Linked DNA regions of Homo sapiens. The protein of the gene in region 6 purifies or fractionates together with the protein of the main gene of each other region. This does not show direct contact. Each region holds a gene or a part of one and is shown on either strand. Other genes may lie near its edges.

Region 1 (3,500 bases), on a different chromosome or scaffold from region 6:
ATTCTGAAGTTGATGTGTATTCTTTGTGTACATGCTTTTATACCTTTTCTGCATATGTATGTATCCATAAATAATATGTAGTCTGTTGTGTGTTTTTAAACTTTACACAGTGGATGTCATACTCTTACATGTATTCTGCAGCTTGCATTTTTCACACATTCATTTTGAATATTCGTTCATGTTAACAATGTAGATCTAGTTTTCTTTTTAAACTCTGTATAGTATTCTTATGTATGACATACACTTGTTGTTATACATTTGAATTATTTCCAGGTATTCTTTTTTGTGTGTGGTATGTAAAGTCACGATGGCAGAGATTTTTGAAGGAAGATAAATTATTTTAGGATTACATTTACAGCGTCAGTGCCCACTTCAAGGTTTATGAAAATTTGGATGCCCAGAAACAAGTACTTCGTAGTTGGAGGAATAAAATTCTGTCTGTTGTGCAGCTTATTATTACAAAGTCTTACTGTTAGAACAATTATGTATATAACACATTCTTAATCAGTTATTTGAAATACTTTAAAATTTTCAATATTCAATTCATAGCTTTTTTCTCTGTTTAGAAAATATTGTGTGTCTTTTTTGATGGAGAAGCAAATTAAACATTTGTCCTGAATTGAAAACCTGAAGATGTTTCCTATACCTTAGACATTGTAAGGTAGACATTTAAGTAAATTTAATTTCTCAGTCAGCCAGGCAGCTCTTAATCTCTGTCTTTATACCGAGTTTTTACCAGATGATCACTTTTAGTTTGTTTTTGTTTGCTTGCTTCTTTGTGGGGAAAGAAATACTAATTTTTTTTTTTTTTTTACCATATTTCCCTTATCTGCATGAATATAATTATCAGGAACTTTGTTCTTAAATGTAACTAAGTCATAAACAGTTCCCTACAAATTTAGGTTTAATAATGGATTCTTCTCAGATTGTATATAAGATCTTTTAGCTGTTGTTACTTTGGAAACATCACATTATGGAGTAGGTTTGTATTTAAAATAGTCACCCAACATAAGTTAAAAATACATAGTGATTCTGTGAATACTTTAGAATCATTAGGATATGTAGGTAATTTCATGTATAATGTTGCTCTACTAGAAAATTAGTTCTAGATAATTAGCATTTTTGTATACACTTAGTATAAAGTATTGGAAAAAATGCATTATTTAAAAAAATTACACCATTTGGAAATGTTTTCTGTAATCACATTTAAATAATATACTATTTGGGGTTTTGTAATAGTTTATTTTTTCGTTGGGCTTTTTTTTTTTGGCAACATAACATTCAGGTGTATAAGAGAACTCTGGTAATGAGAAGAATATGGAAACACTGAAGAAGAGTGAAAAACTTGTGTGAATGATGTTACCTGTTTATTTTTGTTTAAATTGAGTACACTTTTCTAATTGAAATCATAGGGCCATTTAGGGGTTATGTTAAACTTAGTTTCTTTGTAATAGACATGGTTTTTCATATTTTCACCCAAATCTTCAATTTGCACTTTTGAAAATAATTTTTTTGAGAGGGTCTTCTTCTGTCCCTTAGGCTGGAGTACAGTGGTTTGATCACAGCTCACTGCAGCCTCAACCTCCTGGGCTCAAGCGATCCTCCAATTTCAGCCTTCTGAGTAGATGGGATTATGGATGTGAGCCACCATGCTTGACTAATTTTTTTTTTTTTTTTGAGATGGAGTCTCGCTCTGTCGTCCATGCTGCAGTGTGGTGGTGCGATTTCTGCTCACTGCAAGCTTCGCCTCCCGGGTTCACACCATTCTCCTGCCTCAGCCTCCCAAGTAGTTGGGACTACAGGCGCCCGCCACCACGCCCAGTTAATTTTTTTGTATTTTTTAGTAGAGATGGGGTTTCACCGTGTTAGCCAGAATGGTCTCGATCTCCTGACCTCGTGATCCGCCCGCCTCGGCCCCCCAAAGTGCTGGGATTACAGGTGTGAGCCACCAAGCCCGGCCAACCTTACTAATTTTTTAAAAAATTTGTAAAGATGGGGTCTCGTTATGTTGTCCAGGCTAAATTTGCACCTTTAAAAAATTTATTACAAAACTTTGTTGTTGTTGTGTTTGTAGAGACGGTCTCACTGTGTGGCCCAGGCTGATTTGAATTCCTGGCCTCAAGTGATCCTTTTGCTTCAGCACCTCCATGGTGCTGGGATTACAGGTGTGAGCAGTGGCTGTATTCAGCTTAATTTGTAGTTATTTGAAGTTACACAAATTGAGATTTCCAAATACAGTAACATTTTTCTATGTTTGTTAGAATTATCCTTTGTAAAAGGCATCATTTAGGTTATTCAATAAATTAGTCTAGAAAGTTATTAATTTCCAAATATCACATGAAGTCTGTTGTTCAGTAGTGGAGTTAAAATTTAAAAAATTGTTTTCAGAGATGGGATCTTGCTATGATGCCCAGGCTGAGCTTGAACTCCTAGGCTCAAGTGATCCTCCCATCTCAGCTTCTCCAGTAGCTGGGACTGCAGTAATGGGTTAAATTTTTTGTTTCCATTAGCGGGTTTTTTATTAAAAACTTAATGAGTAAGTGAATGAGATGTTTATAGGCCATTTTGCTGTATTAAAATATGTTGACTATGGCAGGCATGGTGGCTCACACCTGCAATCTCAGCACTTTGGAAGGCCAAGGCAGGAGGATCCCTTGAGCTGAGGATTTCGGGAACAGCCTGCACAACATAGCAAGATCCCTGTCTCTACCAAAAAAAATTCAAAAATTATCCAGGTGTGGTGGTGCGCAGCTATAGTGCCAGCTACTTCTGGAGGTGAGACGGGAGGATCATTTGAGCTTCGGAGGTCGAGACTGTAGTAAGCCATGATTGTACCACTGCACTCCAGGTGGAGAGACAAAGCGATTTTTCTGTCTCAAAAAAAAAAATTGAGTAAATTCAGAGGGGAATGTTTAACATTCTTCTTTTAACATTATAGTTTTAAAATGAGCCAACTACTAAATTGTGTGCTCAAGATACATCTTTTCTTTCATAAATGAAGTACCAAATTGTGAGCCTAAAAGGAGTTAGAATGAGTCAAGCTGAATGTCATATGACTGGATATTGAAAAGTCATTATTGATTCACATCACTTTCTTCCTTACTGTGCATAGTACTGAAGTCGTTAATGGAAGAAGATGTACTTACCCAATAAACTTAAGCATTTAAACATGTTGGAAAGAGAAGAGAATCATTATATGATACAACATGAAATAACATACCTGATAGGTGTGACAGAAATTTTAAGTTACTTCAAATCAGTCCCACTGATACTGACTAAATCAAAAGCAGAGTCAAAGCCAGGTGTGGTGGCGTGTGCTTGTGGTCCCAGCTCCTTGGGAGGCTGAGGCTGGAGGATCACTTAAGGCCAGGAGTTTGAGGCTGTAGGGTGCTATGATTGTGCCTGTGCGTAGCCATTGCACCCCAGCCTGGGCAACATATCTTAATAAAAAACAAGAGTCATACTAGGCACAGTGGCTCACACTTGTAATCTCAACACTT
Region 2 (3,500 bases), on a different chromosome or scaffold from region 6:
ATCACTGCAGACCAATTTGAGAACAGCAGCTGAAACTGAGATGGATTTTGCCAACTCTAGCAATGAGTGAATAGACTGCTCTGAGTTCGAAAAGACGAAGCAGGTCTTGCTCACTTGAGCTCTTGAAAGTGACCCAACAGTGCTCCAATCTAGAGGTAAGCCCCACAATGAGGAGAAAGAGTCAAGAGAAATGAAGACAAGGTTCAAAAAAAAGCAGAAGTGGAGAACACAGCCTGGAATTTCAGAATGCAAACTGCCGTGTTCTTAAAACACTTCACAAAACCAACGAGAGTGCTCCATGTAGTTAGAAAAGCTACTCTGGGCCAAGTGTGGTGGCTCACGCCTGTAATCCCAGCACTTTGGGAGGCCGAGGCAGGTGGATTACGAGGTCAGGAGTCAGCCTGGCCCATGTGGTAAAACCCCGTCTCTACTAAAAATACAAAAACTAGCCAGGCATGGTGGCGCGCGCCTGTGGCCCCAGCTACCAGGGAGGCTGAGACGGAAGAATAGCTTGAACCTGGAGGCAGAGGTTGCAGTGAGCCGAGATCATACCACTGTATTCCAGCCTGGGCAACAGGGCGACACTCCATCTCAAAAAAAAAAAAAAAAAAAAAAAAAAATTGTGGCATATTCATACGATGCATCTACTCAGAAATAAAAAGAAATACAAACTATGTTGAATAGAAGAAGCCAAAGAATACATACTGTATGGTTCCATTTACATAAAATTCTAGAACTCACAAACTAATCTACATTGACAAAAAGTTGCTTGGAGGGAAGGCAGCACACACAGGGAGGGAAGATTACAATGGGGCATGAGCAAACTTCTGGGAGTAATGAATGAACATGTTCACAATCTTGATTGTTGTGATGGTTTCCTGAGTGTAGATATGAAAACTTAGCAACCTGTACATTTCGAATAAATACAGTGTATTGTATGTCAATTATACCTCAATAACACTGATTTTTTTTTTTTTGCAGACAGAGTTTCACTCTTGTTGCCCAGACTGGAGTGCAACGACGTGAGCTCGGCTCACTGTAACCTCTGCCTCCCGGGATCAGGTGATTCTCCCGAGTAGCTGGGATTACAAGCATGCACCGCACCCAGCAAATTTTGTATTTTTAGTAGAGATGGGGTTTCTCCATGTTGGTCAGGCTGGTCTTGAACTCCCGACCTCAGGTGATCCGCCGGCCTCAGCCTCCCAAACTGCTGGGATTACAGGCGTGAGCCACCGCACCCGGCCCGTAACACTGCTTTTTAAAAAAGGACTCAAAAGAAGAATTCAAGACAAAATGATAAGTACTGAAGATATGCAAAGATGCAGCAATATAGTCTCCCTCCCCTCCCCAACAAAAAAACCAAAGACAACAATTCACTTTCTTGAAATATTTAATATTTTTTAAAAATTTAAAAATTCATATTGAAAGACTACACCACCAGTGTGTAGATAAGTGGATAAAAAAAAAAAAAAAGACCACACCATATACCTGAGTACAATGACTCCAAAATATCCAACATTGATTTTCAAAATGCTTTTAAAGATCTAGTCTATAAAAACCACTGTATTTTGGCCGGGCGCAGTGGCTCACACCTGTAATCCTGACACTTTGGGAGGCGAAGGCGGGGAGATCACGAGGTCAAGAGTTTGAGACCAGCCTGGCCAATATGGTGAAACCCCGTCTCTACTAAACATACAAAAATTAGCCAGGCATAGTGGTGGGCACCTGTAATGCCAGCTACTGGGAGGCGGAGATTGCGGTTAGCGGAGATGGCGCCACTGCACTCCAGCTTGGGCAACAGAGCAAGACTCCGACTCAAAACACACACACACACACACACACACACACACACACACACACACACACGACTCCGACTCAAAACACACAAACACACACACATGACTCCGACTCAAAACACACACACACAAACAAACAAACAAACACACACACACACACACACACACACCCCACACTGTATTTTAAAGAAAAAAATCTTTTAGGAAGGTAGGCAAAAAGATTGGGCAGTTTATAAGGTAAAAAAAATTATCATCAGATGTTAACAGCTGGCCAGGCATGGTGACACCTCTGTAATCCCTGCACTTTAAGAGGCCAACAAAGTGGGCAGATCACTTAAGCTCGGGAGTTCAAGCTCAGGAGACCAGCCTAAAAACATGGTGAAACCCCATCTCTACAGAAAACACAAAAATTAGCCAGGTGTGGTGGCATATACCTGTAGTCCCAGCTACCGGGAAGGATGAGGTGGGAAGACAGAGTTTACAGTGAACCAAGATTGCATCACTGCACTCCAACCGGGGCAAAAGAGCAAGACTCTGTCTCAAAAATAAATAGATTTTAACAGTTTTACTGGGGGGAAACAATAGAATTAACAAACTTAAGACACTCAAGGATAGAAAATGTGAACCAAAGATTTTACTTCCAGCCAAAGTGACCTTCAAGATTAAAGGGCACATGCCAGGCACGGTGGCTCATGCCTATAATTCCAGCTCTTAGGGAGGCACAGGCGGGAGGATAGCCTGAGCCCAGGAGTTTGAGACCTGCCTGGGCAATATAGCGAGACCCCATGCTCAACAAAAAGGGGAAATAAAAAGGGGGGCAAAAAAAAAAAAAGAATAAAAGGCACAGACAACATACAAGACATACACATAAGAACTCCAGGCCAGGCGCAGTGGCTCATGCCTGTAATCCCAACACTTTGGGAGGCCGAGACAGGCAGATCACTTGAAGTCAGGAAATTGAGACCAACCTGGCCAACACGATGAAACCCCATCTCTACTAAAAATACAAAAGTTAGGCCAGGCACAGTGGCTCACGCCTGTAATCCCAGCACTTTGGGAGGCCAAGACAGGCAGATCACCTGAGGTCAGGAGTTCGAGACCAGCCCAGCCATCACAGAGAAACCCCGTCTCAACTGAAAATACAAAAAAGTAGCCGGGCGTGGTGGCATGCACCTGTAATCCCAGATACTCAGGAGGCTGTGGCAGAAAAATCGCTTGAACCCAGGAGGTGGAGGTTGTAGTGAGTCAAGATCGCACCACTGCACTCCAGCCTGGGCAACAGAGCAAGACTCTGTCTCAAAAAAAAACAAAACAAAAAAAAACTCCAGAAATATTGTTTCAATTAGCCGCTTTTCAATAATCTATTAAAGAATAAGCTTCATTCAGACAACCAAACTGACGAGAGACAGAGAGAATACAATGACAATGACATAAGGACTGGTTGTAGGCATGAGATATATACCTACTGTAAAACTAAGATTGACAGTTAAAAGGGAAAGTCAGCCGGGGCAGTGACTATGCCCGTAATCCCAGCACCTTTGGAGGCAAAGGCAGGGGGAGGATCACTTGAGGCCAGGAGTTCGAGAACAGCCTGTTCAACACAGCGAAACCCCGTCTCTACTAAAAACACAAAAATTAGCCAGGCAATGGTGGCACGTGCCAGTAACCCCAGCTACTCAGGAGGCTGAGGCACAAGAATCACTT
Region 3 (3,500 bases), on a different chromosome or scaffold from region 6:
TCACTTGAGGTCAGGAGTTCGAGACCAGCCTGGCCAACATGGTGAAACCTCGTTTCTACTAAAAATACAAAATTAGCCAGGTGTGGCTCATGCCTGTAATCCCAGCTGCTCAGGAGGCTGAGGCATGAGAATCACTTGAACTCAGGAGGCAGACGTTGCAGTGAGCTGAGATCACACCACTGCACTCCAGTCTGGGCAACAAGAGTGAGACTCTGTCTCAAAATAAGTATATAAATAATAAATGGGAAAAAAGAAAAATGAGGATGGGGGAGAAAAAAAAAAAAAGAAAAAGCAAATATATTTTACCCTTAGTCATAGTTCTTTTAACCAGTCTGCTAATATCACTTGATTTTCTTCAATTTGTTCTAATGATTGCAATTCCAGTTTTCTATATTCTGTGTTGTGTTATTTTAAGTAACAGAAGAATATTATTTTTGTCAATGTAATTTCATCAATTTTCTTATTTCAAAAACCTGAAATACAGCTCATTTATGACTCAACATAAAACGGGAGAATTAAATTCCGCATTAAATTTTTTTTTTTTTTTTTTTTTTTTTTTTTGAGACGGAGCCTCACTCTGTCGCCCAGGCTGGAGTGCAGTGGCGGGATCTCTGCTCACTGCAAGCTCCGCCTCCCGTGTTCACGCCATTCTCCTGCCTCAGCCTCCCGAGTAGCTGGGACTGGGCGCCCACCATTACGCCCGGCTAATTTTTTTGTATTTTTAGTAGAGATGGGATTTCACTGTGTTAGCCAGGATGGTCTCGATTTCCTAACCTCGTGATCCGCCCGCGTCGGCCTCCCAAAGTGCTGGGATTACAGGCATGAGCCACTGCTCTCGGCCCGCATTAATTTTTTTTTGGCCAGGCACGATGGCTCATACCTGTAATCCCAGCACTTTGGGAAGCCAAGGCGGTAGGATCGCTTGAGCCCAGGAGTTTGAGACCAGTCTGGACAACACAGCGAGACCCTGTCTAAATAAAAATTTGAGAATAAAAAAATTTTGAAACAGCTTTACTACATTAAAATTTTGAATGGAAATTTCTCTTTATATTTTTGTAATCCTTAAGAGGGCAAATTAAAACTCAAAGCTTCTATTACAAAAACACTTCTTAGTGTAGTTGATAGATCTTTTTCTAAACAGGAATATGAACATGACAATTCATATTTTTATTGACACAGGTAACTGCATCAGAATCTGCATATTTGATGACACCAGAAAAGACAAAGGCAAATATGCTTCATTTGAAACATAAAACTTACATCACTCTCAATAAAAAGTATTTCTGTCTCTGTGAAAACAGAAAAACTTGTTAAAAGATCTCAAAGTTATGAACAAGAATCAAAATTATTTGATCATGAAGATGTCAAAGGAAAATATTTGATGTTAGCTTATAACCATCACCTCACCACTCTGTACAGATTTTTCAGAAGTAGGAAAATTTTGCACAAACTGTGTTCTGCAGTAACAATGACACTTTTGAAATACTTTGTTTTTAAAGATTATGCTTTAAAAAATAGGTAAAATTATATTTTATTATTTTGTGATTTAGTTAATTTTTTAAATAATACTTTTTCAAAAATAAAAGATACTGTTGTCATTTAGCTTGTGTATAGCTATAGCATCACTTCTTCCTCATGCCTCAGAATTATTTCATTTAACTATATAATCTACAAAGATGCAGAGACTACTGTGGCAGAAATTTTTTTAATAATAACTTTTTTTTTGAATGCTCACTATATGTTGAGCACTTCTCTAAGTGATTTTGCTTTATTTTCTCCTCTAATTCTAACCTCTAACTTATGAGGAAGGTACTATTGCTATCCCTGTGTTTTCAGATAAGATTGATGAGGCTTAGAGAGCTGATAAATGAACTTTTCTATTAAACTAGGAGGAAATAACCCTCTCATTTCATTTTAGGGGAGGTTCATTACACCTGCTCACTACAGTGATGTCGTGGATGAACGTTCTATTGTCAAACTCTGTGGTTATCCTTTATGTCAGAAGAAGCTGGGAATTGTAAGTAACTCATTTTTTTTAAAATATAGGCTTTTATTATTTTCATTTAGCAAAATACTTTGTTGTAAGAATAAGAAATAAAACCTAAGGTCATGAACTAAAGGCATGGATTGGCCAATGATATGATATGTAGATGACTTAATCTTGTAACATAACGTTCATGTTTATTATTTGGATTCTTTTGTAAGCTGTACTTTCTTTTCTTTAGGTACCAAAACAGAAATATAAAATTTCTACCAAAACCAATAAAGTCTATGATATTACTGAAAGAAAGGTGAGTTTAAAGGCTTTCATTGTGGCAATTAATTTTTTTTCTTTACTAACCACTATCCTAACAAGGCATGGCAATTAATTTTTAATGATATTAAATAGGATTCTAAAAGAAACTTTAAAATCTTACTGGTTAGAAAATAGTGATGTTAAAAGTTTGATTTTATTTGTAAATATTTCAATCAAGGTATTAAAAATTTTTTTGCTTAAGCTTCAATTAAGACTTGAACATTTAAAAGTGCATATTGGCACAAATCTGGGCAAATAAATCATGGAACAGAATAGAGAGTCAGCAGCAGACTAACCACATATGTAGACACTTGATATATGACAGCGGGAGTATTGTAGATCAGTAGAGAAAGGATGGATTTTTCAATAAATTATACTGGCACAATTAGTTATGCAAATGGAAAAAATTAAAATTGATGCCTATCTCAGTCTCTATACATAGATCAATTTTAGGTAGATTAAAGACATAAATGTAAAAGGTAGAAGACACTATGGGAGATGCTGGTCGTGGTGGCTCACACCTGTAATCCTAGCACTTTGGGAGGCCAAGGGGGGCGGATTACCTGAGCTCAAGGAGTTGGAGGCCAGCCTGGGCAACGGCAAAACCCTGTCTCTACAAAAAGTACAAAAATCAGCCAAAGGTGGTGGTACGCACCTGTAGTCCCAGCTACTCAGAAAGCTGAGGCACATGCATCGCATGAACCTGGGAGGCAGAGGTTACAGTGAGCCGAGATCATGCCACTGCACTCCAGCCTGGGCAACAGAGCAAGACACTGTCTTCAAAAAAAAGACAATAGACCGGGCGCCCTGGCTCAAGCCTGTAATCCCAGCACTTTGGGAGGCCGAGGCGGGCAGATCACGAGGTCAGGAAATCGAGACCATCCTGGCTAACACAGTGAAATCCCATCTCTACTAAAAATACAAAAAAATTAGCCAAACGTGATGGCGGGCGCCTGTAGTCCCAGCTACTCGGGAGGCTGAGGCAGGAGAATGGCGTGAACCCGGGAGGCGGAGCTTGCAGTGAGCCGAGATCGCACCACTGCATTCCAGCCGGGGCAACAGAGTGAGGCTCCGTCTCAAAAAAAAAAAAAAAAAAAGACAATATGGGAAGATATAAACTTGGGGTAGAGAGACTTCATAAAATAAGATGGAAAATTATAGGCCAAAGAGGAGAAACTGATAAACATTTCTATATTAAAATGTA
Region 4 (3,500 bases), on a different chromosome or scaffold from region 6:
CATAATTCCAAGAACAACAAAAATCTCAACCAATAAGAAAAAACACTTAATTGATGACAACATCAAGATAATAGAAATGTTAGAATTATCTGATAAAGTGTATAAAACAACCATCATAAATACTTCAACAAGAAGTTGCAAGGAGACTGTAAAAACACATTGTCTCAATGACAAAATAGAAAGTCTCAGCAAATAAATAGAAGACATAAAGAATACCTAAATGGAAATTTTAGAACTGAAAAGGACAGTAACAAGACAAAGAAACAAAAACCAAACCAAAACAACAAAGCTCTCAAGGAGTGGGCTAAAAAGCAGAATGGAGAGAACAGAGGAAAGAATTAATGAACTTAAAGATAGAATAAAATAAAGTATATAATCTGAATATCAGAAACAAATAGATTAGAAAAAATTAAACAGAGCTTAAGGGTTTGTGGGTGTACACCACATATCTAGCTTTCATGTTCAGAGTCCTGGAAGGAAAGGAGAAAGAGGATGGAGCTGAAAAAATATTCAAAAAAATTATGGCTGAGAAGTTTCCCAAATTAGTAAAACCTGGTAACATACATATTCAAGAAGCTGAGCATATCCCAAACAATATAAACCCAAAGAAATCCATTACCAGACAAATCAGAGTCAAACTTCTTAAAACTAAAGACAAACTAAAAATTTTCAAAGCAGCAAGAAAAACATTAATTATTGGGAATAACAATTCAAATGACAACAGATTTCTCATTACAAATCATGAAGCCCAGAAGGAACTAGGATACTATTTTTTAAGTACTAAAAGAAAATAATTGTCAACTGTAAATTCTATATGCAGTGAAATTATCCTTTAGGAATGGAGGGAAATTCACATTTTCAGATGAGGGAAAATGAAAATAATTTGTTACTAGCAGACCTACCCTTAAAGAATAGCTAAAAGAAGTTGTCTAAAGAGAAGAAAATCATAAAAGAAAGAATTTGGAATATTAAGAAGGAAGATATAGCATTGTAAGCAAAAATATGGTAAATACAATAAGTTTTCCTTCTTTTCTAGAGTTTTCTTTTTTTATTATACTTTAAGTTCTGGGATACATGTGCAGAACGTGCAGGTTTGTTACATAGGTATACACGTGCCATGGTGGTTTCCTGCACCCATCAACCTGTCATCTATCTACATTAGGTATTTCTCCTAATGCTATCCCTCCCCTAGCCCCCCACCCCCTGACAGGCCCCAGTGTGTGATGTTCCCATGTGTTCTCACTGTTCAACTCCCACTTATGAGTGAGAACATGAGGTGTGTGGTTTTCTGTTTCTGTGTCAGTTTGCTGCGAATGATGGTTTCCAGCTTCATCCATGTCCCTGCAAAGGACATGAACTCATCCTTTTTAATGGCTGCATAGTATTCCATGGTGCGTATGTCCCACATTATCTAGTCTATCATTGATGGGCAATTTGGGTTGGTTCCAAGTCTTTGCTATTGTGAATAGTGCTGCAATAAACATATGTGTGCATGTGTATTTATAGTAGAATGATTTATAATCTTTGGGTATATACCCAGTAATGGGATTGCTGAGTCAAATGGTATTTCTAGTTCTAGATCCTTGAGGAAGCGCCACACTGGTTGAACTAATTTACACTCCCACCAATAATCTAAAAGCGTTCCTATTTCTCCACATCCACTCCAGCATCTGTTTTTTCCTGACTTTTTGATGATCGCCATTCTAACTCACGTGAGATGGTATCTCATTGTGGTTTTGATTTGCATTTCTCTAATGACCAGTGATGATGAGCATTTTTTCATGTTTGTTGGCTGCATTAATGTCTTATTTTGAGAAATGTCTGTTCATACCCTTTGGCCACTTTTTGATGGGGTTGTTTGTTTGATTCTTGTAAATTTGTTTAAATTCTTTGTAGATTCTGGGTATTAGCCCTTTGTCAGATGGATAGATTGCAAACATTTTCTCCCATTCTGTAGGGTGCCTGTTCACTCTGATAATAGTTTCTTTTGCTGTGCAGAAGCTCTTTAGTTTAATTAGATCCCATTTGTCAATTTTTGCTTTTGTTGCTATTGCTTTTGGTGTTTTAGTCATGAAGTCTTCCCCATGCCTATGTCCTGAATGGTATTGCCTAGGTTTTCTTCTAGAGTTTTTATGGTTTTAGGTCTTACCTTTAAGTCTTTAATCCATCTTGAGTTAATTTTTGTATAAAGTGTAAGGAAGGGGTCCAGTTTCAGTTTTCAGCATATGGCTAGCCAGTTTTCCCAGCATTATTTATTAAACAGGGAATCTTTTCCCCATTGCTTGTTTTTGTAAGGTTTGTCAAAGATCCAATAGTTGTAAATGTGTGGCATTATTTCTGAGGCCTCTGTTCTGTTCCATTGGTCTATCTCTCTGTTTTGGTACCGGTACCATGCTGTTTTTGTTACTGAAGCCTTGTAGTATAGTTTGAAGTCAGGTAGCATGATGCCTCCAGCTTTGTTCTTTTGGCTTAGGATTGTCTTGGATATATGGGCTCTTTTTTTGGTTCCATATGTAATTTAAAGTATTTTTTCTAATTCTGTGAAGAAAGTCAATGGTAGCTTGATGGGGTTAGCACTGAATCTATAAATTATTTTCAGCTGTATGGCCATTTTCAAGATATCGATTCTTCCTATCCATAACAATGGAATGTTTTTCCATTTGTTTGTGTCCTCTCTTATTTCCTTGAACAGTGGTTTGTAGCTCTCCTTGAAGAAGTCCTTCACATCCCTTATAAGTTATATTCCTAGGTATTTTATTCTCTTTGTAGCAATTGTGAATGTGAGTTCACTCAAGATTTGGCCCTCTGTTTGTCTATTATTGATGTATAGGAATGTTTGTGACTTTTGCACATTGATTTTGTATCTTGAGACTTTGCTGAAGTTGCTTATCAGCTTAAGGAGATTTTGGGTTGAGACGATGGGGTTTTCTAAATATACAATCATGTCGTCTGCAAACAGAGACAATTTGACTTCCTCTCTTGCTATTTGAATCCCCTTTATTTCTTTCACTTGCCTTGTTGCCCTGGCCAGAACTTCCAATACTATGTTGAATAGGAGTAGTGAGAGAGGGCATCCTTGTCTTGTGCCGGTTTTCAAAGACAATGCTTCCAGCTTTTGTCCATTCAGTATGATATTGGCTGTTGGTTTGTCGTAAATAGCTCTTATTATTTTGAGATACATCCCATCAATACCTAGTTTATTGAGAGTTTTTAGCATGAAGCGGTGTTGAATTTTATCAAAGGCCTTTTCTGCCTTTATTGAGATAGTCATGTGGTTTTTGTCATTGATTCTGTTTATGTAATGGATTATGTTTATTGATTTGCATATGTTGAATCAGCCTTGCATTCCAGCGATGAAGCTGACTTGATCATGGTGGATAAGCTTTTTGATATGCTGCTGGATTCAGTTTGCTGTATTTTATTGAGGATTTTTGCATCGACGTTCATCAGGGATATTGGCCTGAAATTTTCCTTTTTTGTTCTGTCTCTGCCAGATTTTG
Region 5 (3,500 bases), on a different chromosome or scaffold from region 6:
TCCAGGATGCCGGGGATGATGGACTGGGCCGTGACCCGGTAGCCGCGGTAATCCACCACCACCGTGCCCAGCGTGTACAGCCCCTCCACGTCCACCGCGTTGTACGTGCGGACGCCATTCAGGTCGTTGGTGGGCGCCACGTAGGCCGCCACGTCCCCCCCGAAGTCCTTGTAGTGGTCTCGGACGTCGAAGCCCAGGCTGAAGAAGATGTTGTTCCAGATGAACATCTGCATCTTGGTCTCCTCGCTGGGGTTGATGGCCATCACGTTGCCGTCAATGACGGCCATGGCGCCCCTGGTGGCTGCCGCGGTGAAGTCGCTGTGCACCTGGCGGGGGTCGAGGAGGGCAGGGTTAGAGGCCGCGCCCACAAGAGCCTGCATCCACCTGGCCAAGCGCACGCACCTAGACCGCGGAGGCAACCGGGCCTGCCTTGGAAACCCAAGGACCCGGAGCCTCAGTTTCCTCATATGTAGAAAAGGGCAAGAAAACCATGTTTTGGCCGGGCGCGGTGGCTCACACCTGTAATCCCAGCACTTTGAGGGGCCGAGGCGGTCAGACCACTTGAGGTCACGAGTTCGAGACCAGCCTGACCAATATGGTGAAACCCCATCTCTAATAAAAATACAAAAAAAATCAGCCAGGCGAGGTGGCGCGCGCCTGTAGTCCCAGCCACCCGACAGGCTGAGGCAGGAGAATTGCTTGAACCCGGGAGGTGGAGGTTACAGTGAGCCGAAATCACACCACTGCACTCCAGCCTGGGGGACAGAGTGAGACTCCATTTCTAAAAAAGCGCAAACAAACCAAAACCCCCATGTTTTGAGAATACACTTGTGCTGAGGGAGACAGCAGGGCTTAGTGATTAACAAGCGTGCGCAGGTTTGGGATCCACCAGTTATGTGCCAGGTGAACTTGAACAGATAAAGGTATTGACCTTTACAAGTTGTCCAATATATTATAGGAAATAGTCTCTATAACGCACTTGGCACCATCTCTGGTGAAGTCGGTACCCGAGAAATGAGTTTTTGTTTCTACAATTATCATCTCTAGGCAGTATAACTATGGGAGGTTGGTTGTTTTCAGACAGGGTATCACGCTGTTGCCAAGGCTGGAATGCAGCGGCACGAGATCCGAGCTCACTGAAGCCTCGACTTCCCCTGGCTCAGGCCATCCTCCCACTCCAGCCTCCCGAGTAGCTGGGACTACAGGCACATGCCACCATGCCTGGCTAATCTTTTGTATTTTTTGCAGAGACGAGGTTTCACCATGTTTCGTAGGCTGGTTTCCAACTCCTGGGCTCAAGTGATCTGCCTGTCTCAGCCTCCCAAAGTGCTAGGATTACAGGCGTGAGCCACTGTGCCTGGCTGAGATTTCTTTTTTTTTTTTTTGAGACGTAGTCTTGTTCTGTCGCCCAGGCTGGAGTGCAGTGATGCAATTTCGGCTCACTGCAACCTCCGCCTATTGGGTTCAAGCAATTCTCCTGTCTCAGACTCCCGAGTAGCTGGGACTACAGGCATGCGCCACCACACCCAGCTAATTTTTGTATTTTTAGTGGAGATGGGGTTTCCCCATATTGGCCAGGCTGGTCTTGAACTCCTGACCTTGTGATCCGCCCGCCTCGGCCTCCCAAAGTGCTGGGATTACAGGCATGAGCTACTGAAGCCGGCCTGAGATTTTTTTTTTCTTAAGCAACTGCTTTTCCTCATTTCTCTTAGTAACCCAGCACTAATAACTTTTAAACCCCAGCAAACTAAAAGTGTTATGCAAATGAGCACCCGCCCTAGAAGGGCCATGGCCGGCCAGTGCTCGCCCAGGCAAAAGCCCCGCAGCAGTCACAGAGGGCGGGAAGCTGCACGGCCCTGGACACTCAGTCCCTATGGGAAGTAGGGCCCGCTCCTTCCAGGGACTCAAAGCCTCAGAGAGGCCAGAGAAAGGTACTGGGATGGTCTGCTGGGAGGCGGAAGGCTAGCAGACCCTGCGGGAGACGCTGACTGGCCTTCGGGGAACCTGACAGGGTTAGGGCTGCCCCTGCCTCCCTTGCTTTCCTCCTCTCCATGAGAAAACCCGTCAGCAGGTGGACAGCGGGCCTCAGACTGCCGGTCAGCAGAGGCTGCAGGCACCTTGAATATGGCCCTTTCTCGGAGCAGCCGCTCAGGCAGGTTCTTGCGAGGCAGCTCCCTCGTCGTCTGCAGCTCCTCATTCCAGTCTCGGGTCTGCAGAGAGATCAGGGAGGGAAAAACGAGCTCAGCCTGTGCCCTGTGACCTGCTCCCGGAAGTCGCTCCTTCTACCTTCCTGAGAAGAGCCCCAGACTCCCAAATGAAGTCAAGCATGGGGCCTCCAGGGAAGTGCACGGAACCAGCCCAGCACCCAGGAGGGCAGGGGTGCCCAGCGAGGGCAGGGCCAGGTTGCAGGCACCTGTCCAGGAATGTGCTCCTCATAGCCCAGCCTCGAGGTGTAGGCGTCCTCTGCACGCACGCAATCCATGGCATGCTCCGCCTGGGGGGCTGTCCAGCTGTACACCTGGAATGGGGTGGCGATCCTCTCGAACGGGTGGCGCTGGACCCTGTGGCAGGCAGGGGAGGGGGAGATGGGGCAGCCCACCAAGCTCAGAGCCCTTCCACGGGCCCCTTTTCTGAGGCCCCCGCCTGCTCCGGCATCTCCCACCCTGAGACACTGCCCTGGAGCCAGATGGAAGTGCACGGGCGCCTCTCCTGCGGCTGCTGTCTCGGCACTGGCCGACAGCTCCCTAGAGCGGGGACTCCAACACTGGGGGCCCAGGGCGGTTTCTTCAGACAGAAGCACTGGAGTGCAGGTGGGCCGGCTCACCCCATGCCCCCGTGTGCCATGAGACAAGGCGGGAGGGGACAAAGGCACTACCTTTTCTTCTGCAGCACAGCGAAGTTCTTCTTGAAGGTCGGGCTGATCTGGTTGAGCAGCTCCACTAGGGAATGGCTTAGGAAGCGGGGGCTGGCGGGCTTGGGGTTGAAGTGATAAGCTGTGGACCTGCAGGGAGAGGGCGGGCACTGAGCGGGGGCCCAGGTGTCTGCCCAGACCCAGGACGGCTGGCACGGCAGGGGGGTGTGGTGGGCTGGCAGGGACTCACTGATTCAGGTAAAAGCCCCGTGTGGACGCGGTGATGCTGACTTGCCGGTCCTCGGCTGTGATCACAAACAGGTACATGAGGTCCCCGTGCATCTTCCGGTTCCCCGGGGGCGGGTTCCATCCGCTCATGGTGAGTACTTTCAGGCACTGCAAGGGCTTCGGGAGCGGCCGAGTCTGAGGGGCCAGGCCTCTGGTGTGGGGCCTCCACCCCGCCAGGGACCCTCTTCCTCCCTCCCCCAGGATCCTACCTTCCAGTCACGGTTTTGGGGCTGCAGGGGACACAGTGGCCGCTCCCGGCTCCCTGGCAGGATGTACTCGGGTGGTGTGCAGTCGATGGGGTCCATCTCCAAGCCCTTCTTCCGCTTCCCGCTGTCTGAGGGACCCGAGGCTGGTGGTCAGC
Region 6 (3,500 bases):
ATGGGATCTACTTATAAGGCCAACTACTCTATGTCACTATAATTGAAAGGAAAGAATAAATTAAGAAAATTAAGTCCTGCTAAAATGCACAAAGACTTGAAGAAAATATCTGGGTGTATTAAAAGTGAGATGCTCTTTTCACGTAACTCATTTGAAAGGTTACAATTACCATAAACATTTTAACTCCATTAAAGATCATTGGCAAAAGCTTGCTTTCGTATCTGCAAAAGGGCTCTGCCTTTCCACAGGCTCGGAGGGAAAGCAGCACACCGTGGAAGAGTCACTCGTCCTGGGGAAGCAGGCATCAGACTATTTGAAGTTGCATAGGCATTTTTTTTTTAATCCATTTTGTAAAAGATACTATGGAACCTTGAGAATTTTCCCTCCTTCAATAGTCATTGTGGCATCAGTTGTTTTAATCCCTTTAGCGCCCAAATGTGCAAAAACACTCTAGTAAAAAACGTTACAATGGCGTTTTGGATAAATTCACTATACATTACATGACTTGGGAACAACGAAGAAAAAAGCCCAAGCTTGACTCAACTATTTCATATAGAAAAGCACTGCAGGAGAAAACTTTGTTTAAAAACATTAAAACTCAGGTGAATATAAATACATTTTTGGTTCATCTGTGCTATGTCCATATAGAAATCCCGTCAGATATTCAGTCTACCGGGTAATTCAGTTGGATTTCGTGTCTGACTGAATCAGTAGAAGAATATACACTTGCATATACTTACACAGATATGCATTTACATATACAATTCAGACCATGAAAATTTGTTTTAAATACATTTACTTAAAACATGTACCTCTAAAAATAAATACACTAGCCTCCATTTAGCTAATTCTCAGAGTTCTTTCACAAACCAATTAGAACAGTTTATCAACAATGGCAGACAATCAATTAGCCGCCCTTTAAATCCATTATCTATCAGTAAACATTTTAAAATTCAGATGTATAACAGAAATAACATCCGCAGAATAGAATGTAGATAGAATTCTCGCTTTGAAAATAAATGTCTTGATTTCCTTGATATTTAGTTCCTACAGATGTCTACACTTTGCCTCTGCATTTATCTAGCAGTGGGAGAGCATTTTCTGGTGACAGCATTCTATTCCATGACATTACCTTCTAATCAAAGAAGTTAGCTGGCATTCCCTTTGCTGTTTTGTTCGAGAGAAGGAACACAACATCGTTTGTATTTGATATCACTCCCATAGATCACAGTGAGTTGTGTGTTTTAACGTAATTTACAATGTGCTGATACCACTGAGGTAAAGCAGAAGTAGCCCTGGCATTTAAAAAAAGAAGTCTCCCAGGAGAACAACACATAAAGGACCTGGTGGTGTATGTCCAAGTTCCATGAAGTAACTCAAAACCACTGCCAGAATGGACACACTGGATATCTGATATCATAGTCGAAACAATACAAACAGATGAAAATACTCAAAATACTTCCTTTAGAAACAATGCAATTCACAAAAATGGAGCTTTACTTTTTTCTTTTACATTTCCAAAAAACTTGTTAAAATGATATAAACCAGACCAAGTTGTTTAATATAGTACAACTTAACAACCCTGTCATTTGTTTTTGAATACAGGGATCTCAGAAATGTAGGAAATCCATGGTAAATGATAGCAAGAATGTTTAATGCCATTGCCTGGATTTTTTAAAAGGAAAATTTGCTACAGTTGTAACACAACTTCTAAAAAATACTGTTTTATGGGCTCACAGTTTCCAGATTGTTAACTTTATAAATTAAATGTGAAGCTACCCATATATAAACAAGGCCTCTTTTTCATTGATTTCCATCTTGTTTAAACCTTTGGATATTTCAATCTTCAGATTCCACAAGGTAAGGCTGAGTTTATCAGATAAATAAGATGTTTAAGTCCACGATGTATTGCAGCACTGAGGAAACGAATGCATCAAGTATTTACAGGCTGGCTACGATAACTTTCTTTTTTTAAAAAAAATTCAAATGTGTATCAACATCAAGCCACAGTCGTTTTTCAATTTCTCTGGCTACAAAAATGGGCAACAGCGTTTTTTCCTCATTCCTCTTTCTTCTTAACCCTCAAGTCACAGGCAGGTCTTAGGTTAAAGGGCGTGGTCTTTTGGGAGGTGGTGGTGGCATGAGCTCCGTGTCAGGGTCCAGATGATGTTTTCGCTTCTGTCCTTGAGAAGCTGCAGTACATCTGTCGATGAACTCAAACAGCATCTCCTTGGTGACAGGGTTTGAGATGCTGTTACACACAGCTGTGGACAAAGGGAGACAGGTCTCATGTGAGGGTTAATTAAGGCAGCTGACTCACCACAGGCTTATGAGAAAGGTTTTCATCCCAATATACTAAATACTTTCCATTTTACCCATTTGAGTGATGTGCTTCACATTGAACTATCTCCTCCCTACCCTACACCCAAAATATGTGCTTGTCTAATGGCTACTCTTTACTGCAGTATTAATTTTAAACCAAAACTTTAAATGTTTGGGCTATAAGCATGTCTTCCCCACGGTTTTCTATCCCTCCCAAACCAGTTTTTATGGGATTTTAATCTAACACAACACATTGCACCATAGTCTGTATTCAACTAAAACTTCTACAGAAAACGTGCACTATAGTCCTTCAATCTTTCTCTCAGAAAGAAGTCTACTCTACGAAACATAAAACATGGCACCAGCCACCATTCCTGTTGAATAGGTGGTTTCATTGTAGCTAGCAGACCATATTATCTTCTCTTATCAAAATTTAGTGCCAGTCCTTTTCATTTTATTTACCTATTTGGTCTTAGAAGAAAAGACATTGGCTTAATCATCCTGACTTTTGAAATTAACTCATCTTGTCTGAACATGGATGCTAGTTCCAATGAGAACTCCTAAATGTACAACAGTAACTTTTAAACTGCAAAGCTGAAATTGGCAATTTCAATATTTTCTCATTAGCTTATCATATCATCATCATCATCCTCCTCATCAACTGCACATTCTAAAAGTAAAGTTTGATTAACCTGTTATCTTGGTTTTTACCTTTTTTCAACTCCACTAAAAATGCAATCCAGAACAACAACTGCTACTGGTAGTGGTATACCTTATAAACTTCAATTAATTTGTGTTGTTCCCCATGAAAGAAACTTACTATTCTGAATTCCCAAAGCATTCATATTGTACCCAAAGAACACTCTGAAGAATAGCATAGCAGATTTTGTCTTTTTAAATGGTTTTCGTTTACTTTGTTCTCCATTGTTTATAAAGCTATTTTAAGAGCTGGAAATTACATTTTCCCCTGATAATTTTGTCTTTTACCATCTGGCAAACAATGGTTTTTATAGTTTTGAATAGATCTGAAATTATCATGGTTTCTGTTGTTGTTGTTGTTCAATAAATTCAACTTGTATACAGCCCAGTATCCTGCCCTTTAAACTTCTCTTTTGGGTGCATGGGCACAAGATCACCAGTTTAGAGAGTAGAACCTACAAGCCAACTGGAGCCAAACA
Region 7 (3,500 bases), on a different chromosome or scaffold from region 6:
TCTAGCCTGGGCAAGAAGAGTAAAACTCCATCTCAAAAAAACAAACAAAAAAATGAAGTCTTGATATATGCTACAATATGGATGAGTCTTGAAAACATTAAGTGAAGCAAGTCAGTCACGAAAGGCGACATATTGTATGATTCCCTTTGTATGAACCATTCAGAGTTCCAATAGTCAAATCCACAGAGAAAGAAGGTAGATTCATAGTTACCAGGAGCTGTGAGGAGGGAGGAATGGGGAGTGATGACTAATGGGTATCGGTTTATTTTTGGGATAATGAAAATGTCCTGGAATTAGATGGTGATGATGGTTATGAATACACTACAATATATAAAATCCACCACAGTTTACACTTTAAAAAAATTAAATTTTAGGCTGGGCACAGTGGCTCAGAACTGCCATCCCAGCACTTTGGGAGGCCAAGGCGGGTGGATCACTTGAGCCAGGAGTTCAAGACCAGGCTGGCCAACATGGTGAAACCCCGTCTCTATTAAAAATACAAAAAAATCAGCCGGGCATGGTGGCGGATGCCTATAATCCCAGCTACTCGGGAGGCTGAGGCAGAGGTTGCAGTGAGCCGAGACCACACCATTGCACTCCAGCCTGGGCAACAAGAGTGAAACTCCGTCTCAAAAAAAAATAATAATCAGAGACATAACTCAAATGAAGTAACTAGAATTTTACCCCAGGGTACCATGTAGGAGGATTTGAGCACACTTCTTTTAATTATTATTATTATTATTTTTTTTTTTTTTTTTTTGAGACAGTCTCGCTCTGTTGCCCAGGCTGGAGTGCAGTGGCACGAGCTTGGCTCACTACAACCTCCAACTCCTGGGTTCAAGCAATTCTCCTGTCTCAGCCTCCCAAGTAGCTGGGATTATAGACATGCACCACCACCCCTGGCTAATCTTTTGTATTTTTGGTAGAGACGGAGTTTCACCATGCTGGTGAAGCTGGTCTCGAACTCTTAACCTCAGGTGATCCACACGCCTCAGTCTCCCAAAGTGCTGGGATTACAGGCGTGAGCCACCGCGCCCGGCCTATTATTATTTTCTTTGTAGAAATCAGTTGTCACTATGTCACTATGATGTCCAGGCTGGCCTCGAACTCCTTTTGCCTCAGCCTCCCAAAATACTGGTATTACAGACATTAGCCACCACACCTAGCCAAAAGGTACCTTTTCAACCTCCCTGTTGGGGAATCATACCCCACAAATCCCAATCTCACCCATGACAGGCAGGGACACTTATTACTATAATAATGAGGAAGACATTCCACCCCCTACCCACCCCGAGACGGAGTCTCACTCTGTCGCCCAGGCTGGAGTGCAATAGCGCAGTCTTGGCTCACTGTAACCTCTGCCTCCTAGATTCAAGTGATTCTCCTGCCTCAGCCTCCCAAGTAGCTGGGATTACAGTCAAGCACCACCATGCCCAGCTGATTTTTGTATTTTTGGTAGGGACAAGGTTTCACCATGTTGGCCAGGCTGGTCTCAAACTGGCTGGTTTCGAACTCCTAACCTCGTGATCCACCCACCTCAGCCTCCCTAAGTGCTGGAGATTCAGGCATGAGCCACCATGGCCGGCCTTTGAGGAGGACATTTGAGCACATTTAAAAGCATAGTTTGCAAACCCTACAACTGTCTACTTGGTCCCACTGGGTCACACCCAGTGGCTGGACAGGTGAAAGCATGATCCCTAGCAGGGATCATGTTAACTGAGAAAGTTACCAGCCAGCACCCTTCATAGCGTTTGCCCTGGTTCCCAAACTGCCAATGAAGCCTTTGACAACAGCTCTGCTAAGTAAATGCAAGCTGCAGAACAAGTCCTAGCTGAGAGCTGGACATAAAGCCACCTAATCCTTTTTTTTGTCACACTGGAGTGCAGTGATGCGATCTCGGCTCACCGCAACTTCTGCCTCCTGGGTTCAAGTGATTCTGCCTCAGCTTCCCAAGTAGCTGGGACTACAGGTGTGCACCACCACGCCCAGCTGAGTTTTGTATTTTTAGTAGAGACGGGGTTTCACCACGTTGGCCAGGCTGGTCTCAAACTCCTGACCTCAAGTGATCTGCCTGCCTCAGCCTTCCAGAGTGCTGGTATTACAGGTGAATGCCACTGCACCCAGCCAAAAGCCACTTAATCCTAATGATGCTGAGAGGCAACCAAGGGGCCCAGAGAGGGGAAGTAGGTGCATCAGAGTCACACAGCTAAGAAGTGGCAAGGGCAGGACTCAAACTCTGTCAGTCTAAAGAAAGACCTGGGCCTTGGATGCAGCATTTGCTGCCTGGCATGTGGTGAAGTGGGTGACCCCAGCCCAACAGGGCTGGTGAACAGGCAAACCCACTCTCATGAAGAAAAGGTGCAGGAAGCTAGCTGGCTGACTTCCAAAGGGCTACAAGGGTGGGAAGACCCTGCCATAAATGCAGAGAACAAAGACAACATATCCATCTAGGCCGAGAAGAGCCCTTCCATCTAGGCAGTGGTCTTATTCCAGCTCAAGCAGCTCACTCAGCAGGCAGCTCTGCTCACAACAGAGGCACCTGGTACCCCTGAAGTTGACAATGTTCTTCCCTCTGGGTGTTGCCATGTCTCCCCACCAAGCCGCCTGTCTACCCGACTTACCGTGTCTGTGAACTGGTAGGCAATGAACTTGCGCATCAAGGAAATGGCCGTGGCCCGTTCCTCCCCAATCTGGAAGATGAGAGGCAGATTTGAGAGAGATGACAGGATGGAGGAAAGGACACAGGAAAGGGGGAAGGAGACAGCAGCAAGAAAAATAAAGTAGGACCAAGAGAGGAGAGAGAAAGAAGGATGGACAGCCAGGAAGATGGAGGTGGGAGATAGCCAGTCAGTAACGTGGAGTGAGGGATGGAGACAGAAGGACCAAGTGACTGGCAGGCCACGGAGACCCGGGACAGACAGACACTTCTCCCCCACAAAGCAGCCTCCCTCATTCTCCCACCTCCTCCAAGCCCCGAGATCAGAGCACATACCTTACATTTGACAGTCCACAGATTGGGATCCCTAAGCAGCAGAGGAAAAGGAAGGCCTTCAGTGAAGCTGGATCTTCAGTAACAAACAGACGAACCCCCAGGGCCACCCCCTTCCTCTGGTTTCACATCCAGGTTCCCTCACACTCACTGACTTCCCCACGCTTCTACCCAGGAGCAAGAGGAAAGAGAAAGTGCCACCTTGCCCTCCCTACCCCTGCCATCCACCACACTGCCTGTGTGACTCTGCCCTGACTTATTTCAGGGAGCCACCTGTCTAGGCACCATCACCCCATACAAGATTCGCACCCCAGCACGGCCCCCACCATCCCAACCCCCTTACTTGACTCCTGGGAGCAGCTGCTGCTGGGTGATGTCGTCTGAGAGCTCATCAGATCCTCCATACACCCTGAAGGGAGGAGGGCAGTCAGGAAGGGGTGAAGCTCTGTCAGATCCCCGCCCCTTCCCGCTTAGGGACCACCTGCTCCCTGCCCCCACCTGCCCCCACCAT

The links.
Region 1: the proteins of RNGTT (region 6) and PPP4R3B purify together in Homo sapiens (affinity purification with mass spectrometry; one large-scale study listed by BioGRID and IntAct). This does not show direct contact.
Region 2: the proteins of RNGTT (region 6) and PPP4R2 purify together in Homo sapiens (affinity purification with mass spectrometry; 2 studies listed by BioGRID and IntAct, with this or other methods). This does not show direct contact.
Region 3: the proteins of RNGTT (region 6) and RPAP2 purify together in Homo sapiens (affinity purification with mass spectrometry, with the first as the bait; 2 studies listed by BioGRID). This does not show direct contact.
Region 4: the proteins of RNGTT (region 6) and POF1B purify together in Homo sapiens (affinity purification with mass spectrometry, with the first as the bait; one large-scale study listed by BioGRID). This does not show direct contact.
Region 5: the proteins of RNGTT (region 6) and CLUH purify together in Homo sapiens (affinity purification with mass spectrometry, with the first as the bait; one large-scale study listed by BioGRID). This does not show direct contact.
Region 7: the proteins of RNGTT (region 6) and SUPT5H purify together in Homo sapiens (affinity purification with mass spectrometry; 3 studies listed by BioGRID and IntAct, with this or other methods). This does not show direct contact.

What each region holds. Positions count from the first base shown.
Region 1 is NC_000002.12:55,611,123-55,614,622, reverse strand, and holds part of PPP4R3B (serine/threonine-protein phosphatase 4 regulatory subunit 3B), read left to right. Parts: intron 1-3,500. UniProt on the Homo sapiens protein: Regulatory subunit of serine/threonine-protein phosphatase 4 (PP4). May regulate the activity of PPP4C at centrosomal microtubule organizing centers.
Region 2 is NC_000003.12:73,003,311-73,006,810, reverse strand, and holds part of PPP4R2 (serine/threonine-protein phosphatase 4 regulatory subunit 2), read right to left. Parts: intron 1-3,500. UniProt on the Homo sapiens protein: Regulatory subunit of serine/threonine-protein phosphatase 4 (PP4). May regulate the activity of PPP4C at centrosomal microtubule organizing centers.
Region 3 is NC_000001.11:92,302,059-92,305,558, forward strand, and holds part of RPAP2 (putative RNA polymerase II subunit B1 CTD phosphatase RPAP2), read left to right. Parts: intron 1-1,918; coding exon 1,919-2,017; intron 2,018-2,225; coding exon 2,226-2,291; intron 2,292-3,500.
Region 4 is NC_000023.11:85,310,166-85,313,665, forward strand, and holds part of POF1B (protein POF1B), read right to left. Parts: intron 1-3,500. UniProt on the Homo sapiens protein: Plays a key role in the organization of epithelial monolayers by regulating the actin cytoskeleton. May be involved in ovary development.
Region 5 is NC_000017.11:2,698,265-2,701,764, forward strand, and holds part of CLUH (clustered mitochondria protein homolog), read right to left. Parts: intron 3,474-3,500; coding exon 3,349-3,473; intron 3,257-3,348; coding exon 3,102-3,256; intron 3,002-3,101; coding exon 2,876-3,001; intron 2,562-2,875; coding exon 2,414-2,561; intron 2,211-2,413; coding exon 2,118-2,210; intron 327-2,117; coding exon 1-326. UniProt on the Homo sapiens protein: mRNA-binding protein involved in proper cytoplasmic distribution of mitochondria.
Region 6 is NC_000006.12:88,610,619-88,614,118, forward strand, and holds part of RNGTT (mRNA-capping enzyme), read right to left. Parts: intron 2,265-3,500; coding exon 2,101-2,264; 3' UTR 1-2,100.
Region 7 is NC_000019.10:39,459,082-39,462,581, reverse strand, and holds part of SUPT5H (transcription elongation factor SPT5), read right to left. Parts: intron 3,399-3,500; coding exon 3,333-3,398; intron 3,024-3,332; coding exon 2,993-3,023; intron 2,691-2,992; coding exon 2,622-2,690; intron 1-2,621. UniProt on the Homo sapiens protein: Component of the DRB sensitivity-inducing factor complex (DSIF complex), which regulates mRNA processing and transcription elongation by RNA polymerase II.